2 separate regions of the Homo sapiens genome follow, and region 2 is linked to region 1. Evidence: fine-mapped expression QTL. Tissue or cell type: nucleus accumbens. Region 1 holds a variant in brackets; the other region holds the start of a gene. All regions are shown on one strand. Distances are between the middles of the regions.

The links. PIP is the estimated chance that this variant, and not a neighbour inherited with it, causes the effect.
Region 2: it holds the start of GPC5-IT1, and the variant in region 1 is fine-mapped to the expression of GPC5-IT1 in nucleus accumbens (GTEx, PIP 0.98).

The regions. Positions count from the first base shown.
Region 1 is chr13:92,505,182-92,513,530 of GRCh38, forward strand. The region is part of intron 7 of GPC5 (glypican 5); the gene reads left to right. GPC5-IT1 (GPC5 intronic transcript 1) reads left to right here. Exons shown (of 2, transcript NR_046779.1): 2 at 4,332-5,139. Among named protein-coding and RNA genes, the nearest start is that of MIR548AS, 19 kb to the left of the region's middle. The variant T/G (reference allele first, on the strand shown) is at 4,301.
Region 2 is chr13:92,481,155-92,489,503 of GRCh38, forward strand. It overlaps GPC5-IT1 (GPC5 intronic transcript 1), which reads left to right and starts at 3,449. Exons shown (of 2, transcript NR_046779.1): 1 at 3,449-3,527. The region is part of intron 7 of GPC5 (glypican 5); the gene reads left to right.

The sequences.
Region 1 (8,349 bases):
TTAAAGAGCATAGAAAGAGCAAAAATATGTTCAAGCCACATATCTGAAAAGGGAGCTGTATTCAGAATATATAAAGAAATCTCAAAATGTAGCAGTAAGAATCAAATTTAAAAAGGGCAAAAGACTTGAACAGATGTTTCACGAAAGAAGACATGGAAGTCCAGTAAACATGTGAAAAGATGTTTAAAATCAAAATCACTAGGAAAAAGTCAATGAAAATCATGAGATATCGCTACAACCCATTAGAATAACTCCCACTAAAAAAAAGTATTAACAATTCCTGGTGCTGGTGAGGTCAAAGAGCAACTGGGATTCTCATACATTGCATTGGGAAATGAAAATGATATAGTCACTCTTTAAGGTGGTTGGTAGTTTCATGTTAAATTTAACATTCACTTACCATATGGCCCAGCAATCCCACTGCTTGGTGTTTACCCCAGAAAAATAACTTAGATTTATACAAAACCTACATATGAATGTTTATAGCAGTTCTCTTCATAATTGCCAAAAACTTGAAATAACCCAAATATCTTTCAATGGTTGAATGGATAAGCAAATTATGATACATCCCGACTATAGAATACTACTAAACAATTAAAATGTGTGCATTATTTTGGTACTCACAACATCTTACATCAAACTCGAAGGCTTTAATCTGAGTGAAAGAAGCCAGTATCAAAAAGTTACAGCCTCCATGTTTCCATGTGTGTGTTAATCTCTAAAAAGATAAAACTTCAGTGATGGAAAACAGATCAGTGGTTGACAGGATGTAGGAGTGAGAAGTAGTGGGACTGTAAAGAGATGGAAGGAGAGAATGGGGGAATGGAATATAACTGTTCGGCCTTCTTTTCGGAGTTGGTGGCTACATCAGCATGGGCACAGGAGAGAATTCATAGAACTGTATGCCACATTAAAGGTCAATTTTATTGAGTATTAACTTAAATATGACCTTAAAAATAATTATCCACTACATACCAAACTTTGTATTTAATAGTAGTAAAAAGCTTGGAAGATGAGCTGCATGAAAATGCAAAATAAAGGCTGTCTCTGAGGACTTTAAGAGAAGTAGAATCATTATAGGAACACACACTTTTTCAAAAACTTCATATGAATGAAAGAGTTCTAAGGAACAATATTACACTGTTTATATTTCAGAAATTAAAATTTCAAAATAAAAGTTTGATTAGAAATAAGAAAAACTAAGGCCAGTTTAAAAATTAAAGCCAGTCAAAAAATAGATTACAGAAAATATTTTTTAAATAATAATTGATTATAAAATTATAGCTAAGAAAACTCTAGGCCTCTTTCAAGCAAAGTAAATTCCAAATAAAGCATGTTCCTCATATAACTTCTTGACAGTGACCAGAATATGATTTAGACACAACAGTTAACCAAACTTATAAAATGCACCTCTTACTTCGTGATTCTGAGGAAATTTCAGAGAGTGAAATTCCAGCCTCTGTTTCTTTTGTTTTGTGGTCTTTCAAATATATAACATCCCTGAGGAGAACGTAGGAAGCTCTTCTACTTTGTGTCAAGGCTCCGGGTGATTCATTTGGAATCTTCTACCTTTGATTCACACATATACTTTTAGGTTCAAGAGTATGCCTTACTTTATTACCATAGCCTGTCGCAGGCTCGATTAAAATTTCTGGAAACAAATGAAAAATTGTGTTATGAAAAGAATATGATTCTAAGAATCAGGAGGCTCTTATTGGAATATTAGAATTATATACATACAGATCATTGCACTTAAGATATTTCCACTTAGTCTGTGCCTCTGTCTACACCTTGATTTCTGCTACTTCCTTGGCCCCCAAGTATGTGATTCCCTAAATCTATGCATTTCCATGTCTTCATGCTTTGCACATGCAGCTTCCTCTGCCTAGAATATTCTTGCCTCATTACTCACCATAATCATTTCTACCCTTTCTTCTAGAGGCTATTCAGGAATTACTTCCATTGGTAAATCTGTCCTAATCATTCTCTACTCCCCAGATGAAAGATCAACTACTTACTCAACCATCCCATCCACCGTTTGTCTTCACAGTACATTGAGTTTGCCTCTAATCTTACCCACTTACAGCATCACAAGGAATTTTTTCTCATCTATTTACATTTTTACTTTTTTCTCTTGCCAGCAATAGCTATAGAAATTCAACAAACGCTTGATGAGTAAATGTATAAATGAAACAATGAATGAATGAATTTAGCTTTCTTTGGCTTCAGTCCTTTCATTATAAAACATCTATAAAATATTCTCTACAAATATTTTTTTCATTCTGCAGTAGGTGTAGTATTTGAAAATGTGTTATTTACAAAAACTGGCAGAATAGATGAAATCCCTTCTCACATAAGAGTGTGCAATTGTTTTCATAACCAGTTTAGACAACACTGAATAAACTCACACCCACTCTACCTATAACATCTCTGCTCTGATGTTAGCAGAATTTCTAAAAGCAAAGTAAAGTTATTTACAAGTTATACCACTGAGAATTGAAAATGTTATAACTGGTACATTATTTTGAAAGAAAAAAATGTCAAGGTGCCTTTATTTAGAATTAAGTGGAAATAGCTTTGCTGATTCATAGGAATAAAATATATCCTGCACAAGTGAAAAATTTCAACAATCCTCATACATTTAATGGTTTACCTTATTTTTTTTTGCTTGAATTTGTGGTGAATTTGAAAAATTATGAAACCATTTTATGTATATTGAATGGATCTATTGCTGAAAAGAAAGTCCTGCTTACAAATTTTTATTTAATTAATTTAATTAATTAATTTAGTTTTTTGTTGTTGAGCTGGAGTCTCACTCTGTTGCCAGGCTGGAGTGCAGTGGCACAATCTCAGCTCATTGCAATCTCCGCCTCCCAGGTTCAAGCAATTCCCCTGCCTCAGCCTCCCCAGTAGCTGGGACTACAGGTGCACACCACCATGCTGGGCTAATTTTTTGTATCTTAGTAGAGACAGTGTTTCACCATGTTGGCCAGGATGGTCTTGATCCCATGACTTCGTGATCTTCCCGCCTCGGCCTCCCAAAGTCCTGGGATACCAGGCGTGAGCCACTGTGCATGGCCTACTTATAAGAGTTAACTCAATAAATTAGCATTCATTTGTAAATCACCCAAATATATATAGAACATCATATTAGACAAGTAGATAGGAAAATTTTAAAGTCCTAATCTGTGTCCTCAGCTTGGGTACAATAATAATGATTATGGACAGGCATATACAGAACTTTTAATACAAGAAAAAAATGTATTATGAATTGTGTATTGTTTTAAGAGTTTCACAGATTTTGTACAATCTGATATTCTCAGTAATGGTGAAGTGGGTAACATTCTTTCACATTTGAGGAAACACGAGTATGGAGACATTAAGTAACTTGCCCAAGGACACACTGTAAATAGAGAAGCTGCTATTGGCTATATGAATCTAGAGTTCAAGTTCTTAAAAACTATGCTTTATAGATGATTAATTCTGTCTTGAAGTTTTATAACTGCAGATAATCAGCATGTTAGCTGGAGGCCCACTCAAAAGACATTCTCTTTACAGGCAATAAATTAGTCAAGTCATAGAGGTAAAACAATTTAATAAAAATATTGATGTGATTGGAAATCATGAAGAATTTGACTGTATTTTAGGTTGTGCTAAAACAGGAAAAGTAATTGAAATCAGAAGACGGTTTTGAAAGATAAGATTTTAAGCACTCAATTTATTCATTCATTTCTGCATTTCTCTATGAAGGACTGGGCGCCTACTCTGTGCAAATCTCTGTTGCAAGTACTGAGGGTGGAGTAGTGAACAAGATAGAGAAAAACCTGTGCTTGTGAAGATAACATCCTAAAAAGAATGACAGACCATACATAAATATGTAATATATGCCAGATAGTAACAAGCACTCGAAGGAAAAAGAAAGTGGCTAAGTAATAGAATAGTTTGATGTGAAGAATTCCATGGTATAGGCTCTATCATGATTTACCCCTGCCTCAAACATTACATCCCAGCAACATCAATCCGCTAATCATTTCCTTGTATACTTCCTGATAGTTTTAACCCTCCTCTCCCTATCTTTTCTGTCTGCTCTAAGGGGAATTCCTTTCTTCCCATTGCTTTTAATTATCTCTGACCCTTTAAGCATCACATAAATCTTTCCTTAGGTAAAATATTATATTCCCCCAAAAGGTTCTCTCTGCTTAATTCTCTCTGCTATTGTCTCATTATCTTAGGCTTAGCATCACCTCTTGACACACCTCTCGCCTTGATAGCACATCTCCTCTTATATTTTCTTATCTTT[T/G]TCTTATTTTTTCATTACTTTCTTCCTTCAGTGACCACGATAGTGCCTCATGCAAAGGAGACATTCTACAAATGTGTTGGGAATGGAAAGCAGATAAAGATGTGATCGAGATGAAAGAGAAAAATGGCATTTGGAATTCTCCCTTCAGAGATCAAAGTTAACAGTATGGTGATACGGCATCCAAGGAAGACAGAAATAACTGATTTCAAGACAGCGAAATTTCTACAATTTACCAGTTATTTAAAAGCTAGCAAACAAACAACGGCATACTCACCTTCATCTGTTGGGGGAAAATTATTTTTTGTCATTGCTCACTTCAACATGGGCGCAATGAGAGATAAGAGACACTAAGAAATGAGTGTAGAAATGAATATTTTTGCTCATTCTGCTAGAAAATATAATACTTAGTAGAAACAGATTCCTGAATTGCTACACTTTAAACATGCAATCACATTTTACTATTATATGCTATACACATACTCTAAATGTTGTAAGCTTAATATTTCAGATTGTATAAGAGATTTTGAGGCATGTTATTGTACATACAAATAACATAAATAGGGTTACCATCCTAATCCAAGGGTTACTTAGAAAAGAAACCAATACTATTTTTGATATATTATTAATGACATTGTCTTCTGACAACATAATTTCTTATACACACTGCTTTTACTTTAAAAATTGTTTCTAGATAAACATAATGTTTTTTCCTCTTTTGCTGTTTTTTTATTTTTGGAAAAATTAAAGGCATCTTTATGTTTATTCTTAGAGATAACTCAGCTTCATCTTGGCCCACTTTCAAGTAAAATTCAAATAAATTAATTTGAGGGATGTCAAAATGTCTACCAGCCTAATAACTTAACAACCTCTTAAGATGCCAGTGGGTTAGAATAAAAGACCTACATCGAAGGGAATGATGGGGAACATGGCAGGAGGGAATTTTGTCTTAATATCCTTTCTTAGAAGCATGCTTTCTGTGCTCAGCTGCATAGAAACAACTGGCTTCAGGGAGCTACCTTTTACTCAATCTTTAGAACAGTATTATTCATTCAATTGCAATGTTGACTATTGTATATACAATTGACATAAGGCCTCAGGACATTCAGTCTTCTGTTACGGAATTTATGGAATCTGAGCTCTCCTGCTGGGATCAAGACACCATCTGTAGGAACTGGTATTATGAACCCACCTCTGGGTTACTTTAGATGGAGCCACGTGGCTCTGGCTCCTAGATCTCAGCTGTATCCATGGCTTATGCTGATTTTCCACCTATAGGGGACTATGAAAATTCACTTGTCTTAATTTCAGAGTGAGACATAAGTAAGGGTGATTAGATTGATAGCATCTCCATTACCAAATCAATCAGTCCATGGCTTGTCAGCATTCTTTCTAGGGTTTGCAACTTGTCTGAGGCTCAGTTCACTCCTCTAGGAAATGGAATGAAGTGAGGGAGGATAAGATCAGGCTATGATGTGTGGGCCTTTCTCAACATTAAAGTAGATCATTCCCATCATTTGAATTCACTATTATGATTTTAATTAAAACCTTTGTTAATATCTAGATTGGTATCTTATAAAGACATAGAGAAAAGGATGGGTTCATTTCATCTGAAAGGTTAGGGTTTTCTTTGGTTTGATATGTTTAGCTTGGCTTTTAAAATTCTTGAACAGACTTTATTTCTGTTCTTAATGTATTTTTTCTATTTTAATTATTCTGGCTTTTTCTCAAGTAAATCTGCTATTTTTAGAATAGATTTCTATCTATCATCTCCCATAGCTGTATTGGCTCTCATTTTATTCTTGGTTCTTCATTTCTGCATTCTGGGAAAGTATCTCAAATTTGTCTTTCACAACATTGACTGGACTTACTGTAGTTTCCACTAGCACAAATGTATATTTTAATTATGCTTTCTTTTTCCATTTTTGTCTCTCTCCAGAAATATTTCCTAACGGTCATACTTGTAATTACTTTATGTTAGTTTTTCATCTGGGGATCTCCTTTGCTAGGATTTTTGCATTTATTTCAGAGAAATCAGCTGTCATTTAGCCTGCAAAAAATGCCAGCTGATTAAATGATACCTCTGTTGTTCAAGGGCATATGATTTCTGTGACCATTTTTGGATGTTGTTTCACTTACTTTGTGCTCTCATATTTTTCCCACAAACCCCATGGTTCTTTGTAGGTTTTTCCCTTTAACCTTAAGAGATGCATATTCTCTTATAAAGTCATTTTGTTGCCAGAGCTATAATTTTCTCCTTCTTCTGATACTTAGCTCTTTGACATTTTCCATTGAGCAAGGGAGAAACTGCAATCATCAATCTGTATGACTCCTAGACCCTTCCTGACTTCATCATCTCATGCAGCACTTTACCTGTGATCATTTTCCATCTCAGTAGGTTATGCTTGTTATATGGTGAAAGAGAGACGTGGAGTGCAGGCTGGAGAAGTGGGAGGCAAATGGTCTCAAAATAGAACATCCCTGTAGTGAAGTTCTGGGTGTCCCGATTTCTAGTTGCTTTGTACCTTGGGTGTCTGGGCTAGAATCAGTCAGTGGGAAAGAAGCAAAATAGCTCCTGACCTTCTCTAAGACCAAGTTTATCCTGTTTTCAATAGCAAAGCATGCATCCATGAGATATTGATGATTTTTGCCAGTCCAACCCATTTATCTTATATTAACTAAATTTTCTCCCCGATTCTGCCCTGGCAACACTTAATGATTGATCCTAGTAATTTTTTTTTATTTTGTAGATTGTATGTGTGTGTGTGTGTGCGCGCGCGCGCGCGTACGCTGTGTGCATGCACGCTCATGGTAACACATATTTTTTACTATTTCCGAGTCACCTTAAGTACTTTAGTGACAAGTGGGGAGAAGCTACAGAAGGAACAATTAATACCACTGCACTTAAAATGGGAATCCCTAAAGCAACAAATAATAAGATTTTAAGGATAGTATGTGTGAACATTTCAATACATAAAATATATCTTACAATTAAGACAATAAAAATATTATATATAAGAAACAGCTTTACTCTAAATGCTTCATCTGTAGGCTTTTTCAGAAAGTTATCAACATAATGATCATCTGAATTGTAGTAACCCAGATGTTGATCTGTTACTTTTTCACCTATTTCTTCATTTTCCCTATGCCAATATCCAGTTAGCTCTTCTGTATTTTCAGTGTTCATTTAGAAGAGAAGGGAAGGGTTCACATTATTCATGCTTTGGAGATTAATGATATAGTCAATCATCTGAAATTCACATGGATCATTACTGCCTTCACATTAATTTATGCTCAATTAACATTCTTAGAATCAGTTTTCTGTGGAGTTTAGCCAATTGGCTTTATAGCTTCTGGCTCTGCAAGGTTCATTTTGCTCTGATCACTAGTAATAGGAGTAGCTACAGTCCTCCTTCCTGTCATTAAAGTCTTCAGGGCTTTGGTTTTGCTCATAAATTGAATGGGGCCAGCACGTGATGCGATGTTGTCACAGAGTTCCTGGATAACAGCCACATTGCTACATCCTGGCAACTGTCCTCCATGCAGATGTGATGCTCAGCCGAGCAGCAGGGTCACAGGTGTACCTTTGTGCTGGTGTATTGGAAAGGTCACCGGCGGAAGGCCATGTTACACTCAGAGGGATGGGAAGACGTATTGTTCGTACTTGAATACTGTTCTTCTAGGAGAAGGGCGGGAATCAGCAGGCCGCCTTTTCCTGTAGTGAAAATCAGCAGGAACATGGCTTTTTCCATATTGGACCTAGAAGTAATGTTTTAGGAATCATTGACAGTGTGCTTAGGGGTCTATTAAACATAGGAGAACATGCAATCCTTTTTTGTCCAATGTTTAGGTGAAAAGTGAATTTATAATAATGAACATTGAAAGTATTATGAATTAATTCACTTGGACTGCTGTCATGGTTGTGGAACTAAATAAACTTCTGTTCCTGTGTATTTTTCCACATCCTAGTTAAAAATCTAAAGCTTTTTTCTGTTTTTTTTTTTTAATTAAGGCATATAAGACATCTTTCTTTCTCTCTCTCATTCTCTTTC
Region 2 (8,349 bases), 24 kb before region 1:
CAGTGGTGTGATCTCTGCTTACTGCAAGCTCTGCCTCCCAGGTTCACGCCATTCTCCTGCCTCAGCCTCCCGAGTAGCTGGGACTACAGGTGCCCACCACCATGCCCAGCTAATGTTTTGTATTTTTAGTAGGAACAGGGGTTTCACCTTGTTAGCCAAGATGGTCTCGATCTCCTGATCTCGTGATCCGCCCACCTTGGCCTCCCAAAGTGCTGGGATTGCAGGCATGACCCACCGCGCCTGGCCAATTTTTGTATTTTAAGACACCAGGCTTGTAGTAATTTGTTATAGCAGCAATGGGAAACTAACAAACATGTATGCGCAAAAAGGGGAAAAGAGTTGGGCCAGTTGAGTTTGTCACTTTGTATCCGGAAAGCAAAACCCTTCACAGAAACCTTACTGAACTTTCATTTGCTTACATCTCCCGTTCCAGAATTAGGCTGCATGACCACTGTGGATCAACCACAAACCAAAAGAATTCAATTATCATGGCACTGTTCAATTAGACAATCACAGTTCATCTCTTGGAGCTGAGATGGGGGATCATTTCCTTTCTTTTCTAAGATCTACTGAACTCTCATTAGCTGGAAAAAAAAATCAAATTCTATTGGGAGAGAAGAAGGGGGTTGAAGACAAGTGGATTTTTAATACCTAGCTGATGTTGGGAGGCTAAGTATAAAAAGACATTCTGTGGCTGGGCGCAGTGGCTGACACCTGTAAACCCAGCACTTTGGGACGCAGAGGTGGGCGGATCACCTGAGGTCAGGAGTTTGAGATCAGCCTGGCCAATATGGGGAAACCGCATCTCTACTAAAAATACAAAAAAATTAGCCGGGTGTCGGGGTGGGCACCTGTAATCCCAGGTACTTGGGAGGCTTAGGCAGGAGAATTGCTTGAACCCTGGAGGCAGAGGTTGCAGTGAGCCGAGATCGCACCATTGCACTCCAGCCTGGGCAACAAGGGCAAAACTCTGCCTAAAAAAAAAAAATTCCTGATGTTGGGTGCGTAGCAGCTTGTGCCTGACACACTGCCCCATATCCTTTCCACCAACAAGTCTCATTGTTTTCTTTCAAAAATACATTTCAAACGTGTCTTATGTCCACATGTCCACAACCACCATTCTGTTTTAATCTAACAACATCTCTCTTTTGAATTGCTTAAATGACCAGTTAATTCTCCTCCTAAAAGCTGTTTAGCTTCCCACTCGCCCCTATCTTATTTTTTTCCATTAGGTAGCCTGAAGAATCTCCTAAAAAATTAACTTGTCCATTCTCTGCTTTTTATACTACCTAACCACTTCTTGTTGAAGTTAGGATTAAGCTCAAAATCCTTAAGTGACTTACCTCTTTTGCAGCATTGCTTGTAGAGTAAAAGATTCTTTAACACCATTCTTCTTTCCAGCTTTGGCCAGGGTTTTTTTCCCCCCTTAAATACTACTAGTTATATAATTAAATTTTAGTTTATGCACCAATTTGAATGAATACTTGATAAATGTCTCTACTTGTAATTTATAACTTCCATTAGAGTGGAAGTCAGGTACACTTTTACCCACGATTGTATTGCACTTAAACTGGAACTGTTGAGTGGGTGAATAATCAATAAAATGAGCAAATAGTTCTCATCCTTAAGAACATTCTAAATCAGTAGGAAGAAAGAATGAGTAACTATAGTTATGCCATGCTTAATGATGGGGATACTGTATTAGTCTGTTCTCACCCTGCTAATAAAGACATACCTGAGACTAGTTAATTTATAAAGGAAAGAGGTTTAATGGACTCCCAGTTCCACATGGCTGGGGAGACCTCACAATCATGGCAGAAGGCAAAGGAGAAGCAAAGGCACGTCTTACATGGCAGCAGGCAGGAGAAGCTTGTGCAGGGGAACTCCCATCTATAAAACCATCAGATTGAGACTTATTCACTATCACGAGAACAGTATGGAGGAAACCGTCCCCATGATTCCATTATCTCCACTTGGCCTTGCCTTGACATGTGGGGATTATTACAATTCAAGGTGAAATTTGGGTGAGGACACAGCCAAACCATATCAGATACATTCTGAGAAATGCATGTTTCTGTGATTTCATAATTGTGTGAACATCATGAGCATACTTACACCAACCTAGATGATACAGCCCACTCCCCACCTAAGGCTACATGGTGGAGCCTTTTGCTCCCAGGCTACAAACCTGTATGACATGTTACTGTACTGAATAGTGTAGGCAATTGTAACACAATGGTAAGTATTTGTGTCTCTAAACATAGAGAAGATACTGTAAAACTACAGTGTAAAAGATAAAAAATAGTACACCTTATAGGGAAATTACTATGAATGGAGCTTTCAGGCCACAAAGTTACTGTGGGTGAGTCAGTGAGTGGTGAGTGAATGTGAAGGCCGAGAAAATTACTGTAAACTAGTGTAGAGTTTATAAATACTATACACTTAGAATACCCAACAATTATTAAAAATATTTCTTTTTCTTCAATAATAAATTTACCTTAACACTGTAATTTTTTACTTTATAATTTTGTTTTTTAACATTTTGACTTTTCTATAATAAATGTAGCTTAAAACATACTGTACAGTTATACCTGATTTTTTTGTTATATTATTCTAAAGCTTTTATCTAGTTTCTTTTTTTTTTTCCTTTTTTATTAAAAGCGAAGACACAAACACACATTAACCTAGTCTTGCCAGGCACTGTGGTTCATATCTGTAATCCCAGCACTCTGGGAGGTCAAGGTGGGAAAAGGCCTCCTCCTCTTGAGGCCAGGAATTTGAGACATACCAGGACAACATAGCAAAACCTTGTCTCTACAAAACATTTAAAATAACTGGCCAGGTATAATGGCATGCACAGGTGGTCATAACTACTCAGGAGGCTGAGGTGGGAGGACCGCTTGAGCCCAAGAGTTTACGGCTACAGTGAGCCATGATCACTCCACTGCCCTTCAGCCTGGGCAACACAGTGATACCCTGTTTCAGAAAACAAAAATCAAAACATCTGGGCCTGCACAAGGTCAAGATCATCAGTATCACTGTCTTCCACCTCCACATCTTGTACTACTGGAGGGACTTCAAGGTCAGTAACACTCATGGAGCTGTCATCATGTATGATAACAACGACTCTTGGAATAACTTCTGAAGGATCTGTCTGAAGCTGTTTTACAGTTAATTTTTGTTTTTTAATATGCAGAAGGAGTATACTCTAAAATAACTATAAAAAGTAGAGTAAATACCTAAACCAGTAGCTTAGTCATGTATTATCATTACCAAGTATTATGTACTATACATAATCATGTAGGCTATATTTGGTTATGCATACTATATGACTGGCAGCTCAGTAGGTTTGTCTACATCAGCATCACCGTAAACATGTGAGTAATGCATTGTGCTCTGACATCACAATGGCTATATCACCAGGCAATAGGAATCTTTCACCTCCCTTGTTGACTGAAATGTGCTTATGCAGCACATATATAATAAAAATGATAAAAGGCTACTCTCTTTAGAAGGACAGACAACATGTGAGTTTGGACCATTATAGGTCAGATGTGCCTTGAATAGAATTTTTATTTTATTTTTTTATTTTTTTTTTGAGACAGAGTCTCCTTCTGTCACTAAGGCTGGAGTGCAGTGGCACGATCTCGGCTCACTGCAACCTCTGCCTCCCAGGTTCAAACAATTCTCCTGCCTCAGCCTCCCGAGTAGCTGGGACTATAGGTGCGTGCCACCATGCCCGGCTAATTTTTTTTGTATTTTTAGTAGAGATGGATTTCACCGGTTGACCAAGTTGGTCTCGAACTCCTGACCTCAAGTGATCCACCTGCCTCGGCCTCCCAAAGTGCCAGGATTACAGGTTTGAGCCACTGCCCCTGGCCTTGAATAGAGATTTGAAGGAAAGATGCAGCCAAGGGGATGTTGGCAAGTGAAACAATCCATATTTAAAGGTTAGAGGGATGAAATGGAAGTGAGTTCTGGAAGTTTGATGGAGGCAAGTCTGTGGAAAGTTTCAAACACTAAACCTGTGCAAATGAATTATCTTCAATTTTTGTAATTTGTTTTTATGCAATATATTTTCTGAATATATGAGTGATGTAACCTTGATGGTATTATAGGAAGTTGACATTTCAGGCAGTCTTACTAATTAAATGTTATTAATTCAACATCTGTTAAACAAATATTTTTGGGTGCTAGTTGCCAGACTCCAAAATAATAGCCAGAGAAAATAAGGTGAGTGCAAACTAAAGGCATAGCCTTTACTCTCATAGAAAAGTCTTTTTCTCTAATTTTTAAATGTATTTTGTCTTTAAGATAACATCACAAGTTCATCAAGAGTAGAAAAAAAAATCACTTTCTTATATTTCTTCTGTTTCAATCACAGTCCATATGGCAAAATTAGGCAAATAGTAATTGAGCAATAAACCCCAAGTTGATTGTTTAATGGAATAATCAAGAAATTTCTAGATGGTCATTCCACTTTGGATCATTACAGCCCTACCTTACAGCAGGTGGGTAAGATTTGAGAAAAGATATTTAGGCCAGGCACGTTGGCACATGCCTGTAATCCCAGCACTTTGGGAGGCCAAGGTGGGTGGATCACCTGAGGTCAGGAGCTTGAGACCAGCCTGGCTAACATGGTGAAACCCTGTATATACTAAATTAGCCAGACTTGGTGGTGGACACCTGTAATGCCAGCTACTCTGGAGGCTGAGGCAGGACAATCACTTGAATCTGGGAGGCAGAGGTTGCAGTGAGCTGAGATGGTGCCATTGCACTCCAGCCTGGGCGACAAGAGCAAAACTCTGTCTCAAAGAAAAGAAAAGAGATATTTAAAAATTATGTAGTTAGATTGACTAATGCCAGCAGCTATGGATCGTTCAGGCTGAAAACTTCCCTTGGAGGTCTTAATGATCCAGATTTCCTTATTAATACATGCAACTGTCACATGCTCCATCACATTCTGTATTGTCTCCCTAAAGCTTCAATGTCTTTTTTACACTGGAATTTATCAGTGTCATCAAAACATTTAATGCTGGTTAAAATGATAGCCCCTGACTTAATTATATGGGCTGTCAGGCAAAATTGACGGATGTCAGTGACAACAAAGCTTATTCTAGCCTGACCTTCACCGAAAAATACACTGAGAAATGGTATTTCTATCCTCCTATCCTCAGATCAAGCTTTTATCTGTTGGCATCATTGTCATTATAATTATATGTGGTATAATAATAGTGATTCTGATTTAAATTTTGTAAAATAGAAACCACATCGAACTTGCTTCCTAAAGTGTGATGTAATTTTTTAAATAAAGAGGAAAAAATTCTAGACATTTCCAACTCCTTAAAAAATACTGTGTTTGATTTGTTGACATAGGGAACTGGAAAGTGGGGTAAATTGAAAAATAGTAGAGTTTTAGTTTCTAACACTCATATCAACTTTAAATTTGTCTTTTTGACAATTTGGAGGTACTTGATTGTATTTCTATGAAAGGAAATCATAAGAATGAGAATATAAAGATCACTGTTTAATTCCTAATATGAATCGTGCTCTACTGTCCAAAAAAATAGACACGTGGCTTTTTAGATTTAAAGTTAATTAAAATTAAAATGTAAAATTCATTTCATCAGTCACATCAGCCACATTTCATGTGATTCGTGGTCATGTGGCTAGTGGCTACTGGATTAGATAACACAGGGGACAGGGATTTTTTTTTTTTCAGATGGAGTCTCGCTCTATGGCCTAGGCTGGAGTGCAGAGGCGTTATCTCGGCTCACTGTAAATTCTGCCTTCTGGATTCAAGAGATTCTCCTGTCTCAGCCTCTCAAGTAGCTGGGATTATAGCCGCCCACCATCATGCCTGGCTAATTTTTGTATTTTTAGTAGAGATGGGGTTTCACCATGCTGGCCAGGCTGGTCTCGAACTCCTGACCTCAGGTGATCTGCCTGCCTCAGCCTCCCAAAGTGCTGGGATTACAGGGGCCGTGCCCAGCCAGGGAATTTTTGTTGTCTTAGAAAGTCCTATGGAGAGTGCTGCTTTGCTGTATTTGCATGTAGTTTTATCATCTCCATGCAGTTAACAGAATGTTTTCAGGAGGAGAATTCCCTAAGGTGAGAAACTGGTTTTCTCAGGAGACTATTTGGACAAATGACAACCATGTTATTTAGTGAGAGTGACCACCAATGGAGCCCTATACAACTGTCACTGGCACTGCCTGAAGGGAATTTATAACCAGGAGACTATTGCTGTTCTTAGTTGTGTCTAAAATTGCATTGTCATGATTCACCAAAGGCATGTCATGATGTACCATGTGCCTTTTGAGATGGGATAATACTTATCTATAAGATGGTATGATTATCAGATTGACTCCTTCTCCTACAAAGAAGCCTCAATATATTTCAAAGAGTAGAAAACTTTCTGCATCCCAGAGAGCAATGATTTTTATCATTGAACAGTGGAAGTGTTTATTTCCAAACTATTTAAGTGCTGCACGTGACCCCAAAGTTTATCTTGAAATTAGTTACTACACTGAGACACAATTCTGTGAGAAATGGAAGTAAATTTTAAGTGATCCCATCTCAGGCTAAGTAGCTTGCTGAGAGTTGTGAGACAAACATCTCTATACTTTGATGCTTTTCTGTGAAGAAAATCATGATTATAAATATGGACTATATATAAATATAGTAAAAAAAAAAAAAAAAAAAAGAAAGTAAAACCTATGCTATTACAGGCCAGGAGAGCAGATCCCTTTGATGAGAAGAGGTAAGGATTAGTGATTGGAAGGAAATATGAAGGGAATTGTGAGGATGGATGAATTTCTGTTTCTTGATTAGGGTGTTTATGTGCAATTTTTGAAGTCATCAAACTGTATACTTATAATATTTGCTCTTTTCTTCATATTCTACCTCAATAAAAATGTGAACATATGCATGAACATACATACCCAGATACGTATGTGCCTGAGTGTGTGTGTGCGCGTGTGTGTGTGTACAGGCATATAAGTTTGTAAATTTAATCCAGTATCAAAACTCAATGAAAACCCATTTTTTTCTAACGTGGCTGTGACTAATTATTTAAGGATTGCAAACTTACTAAACAGTCCAAAATCTTTCAAACCAATTTAAATCAAAGCATAATATTATCGAAAGATTTAAATTTATGCATCACTTTTCCGTGATGGAATGCTAAGTAGATCCTATCCAATGCTTACTTCAGATCCACTTCATTTCCAAAATGCCACTGAAGCATAAGTTAATTAAATTACATAGATTCTAGGCAGTGATGGGAAAAGTAATATTTGATTAAGTGCATATGCCTGCAAAAATCCCTCCGTTGCCATACGTGCTGATACATCAGCTGCTTAACTGCTGGCATTTTTAATCTATCCAAAAGGAAGACATATTTAAGTAGGTTAGTTATTCCTTGGCTTGTGAAGTGCTATCATTTTTGTTGTTTGCTAATAGTCCTGTAAGGCAGAATTCATTCAAAGCCAGACAGGAAATGCAATGACATAAAACCTGGTATTTAGAGTGCATATGCTCAGAATTCACAGCGATACTGTGTCGTAGGTGGTGGTTTCTTGCAGGCATTGCATTTCTCTTGATTCATGATAATGTTTGAAGCTTTGAAAGTGAAATTGACTAAAATTAATTCTACTTGTGAAACTGCCCTCCGGAAAACTGTTCATGTCTATGTGTATCAATGTGCTAACATAGCAATAGCATTTAAAGGCTTGACAATAAAGGCAGTTACTAACAAATAAAACATTAGAAAGGGCTTTTTTAACAAGTAAATTTCAGGGGAATGGTTTCAAGTTTAGACAGAATTATATACAAGTTCCCAGATGTTCATATAAATATTAATATATCAGTTATTTTCTATTTGACTCAATTATGCACAAATCAGCACATAATAATTTAATCAAGCTCTTCATCTCTCTTTGACAATACATTGCATCATGGAGTAGAGAAAGAATGTGAAATTCAAGGTGGCTAGTCTACTGCTAAACTCTGATGAAATGACACAGAATAATGATTTAACCACCAAACTAAGAAAAATCCTTCATTTTCATGTACATTTTACCTATGTCCATTCACTTATCTAATGATCCTATACATATTTATCAAGTATTAGTATGTGCAGGGCTATGTCTTCGTTGCTAGAGATACATCTTGTGACTCACCAATTCTCTGTCCTCATGGAGTTTCTATTCTAACGGGGAAACAGAATACTGGCAGAAAACAAACCAGTAAATACATCATGTGTCAGATATTGATGAGACACGTGGAGAAGAATTAGGCAAGGTAATTTGCATAAAAATTGTGAGATGAGATGGAGTGCTGATGTTG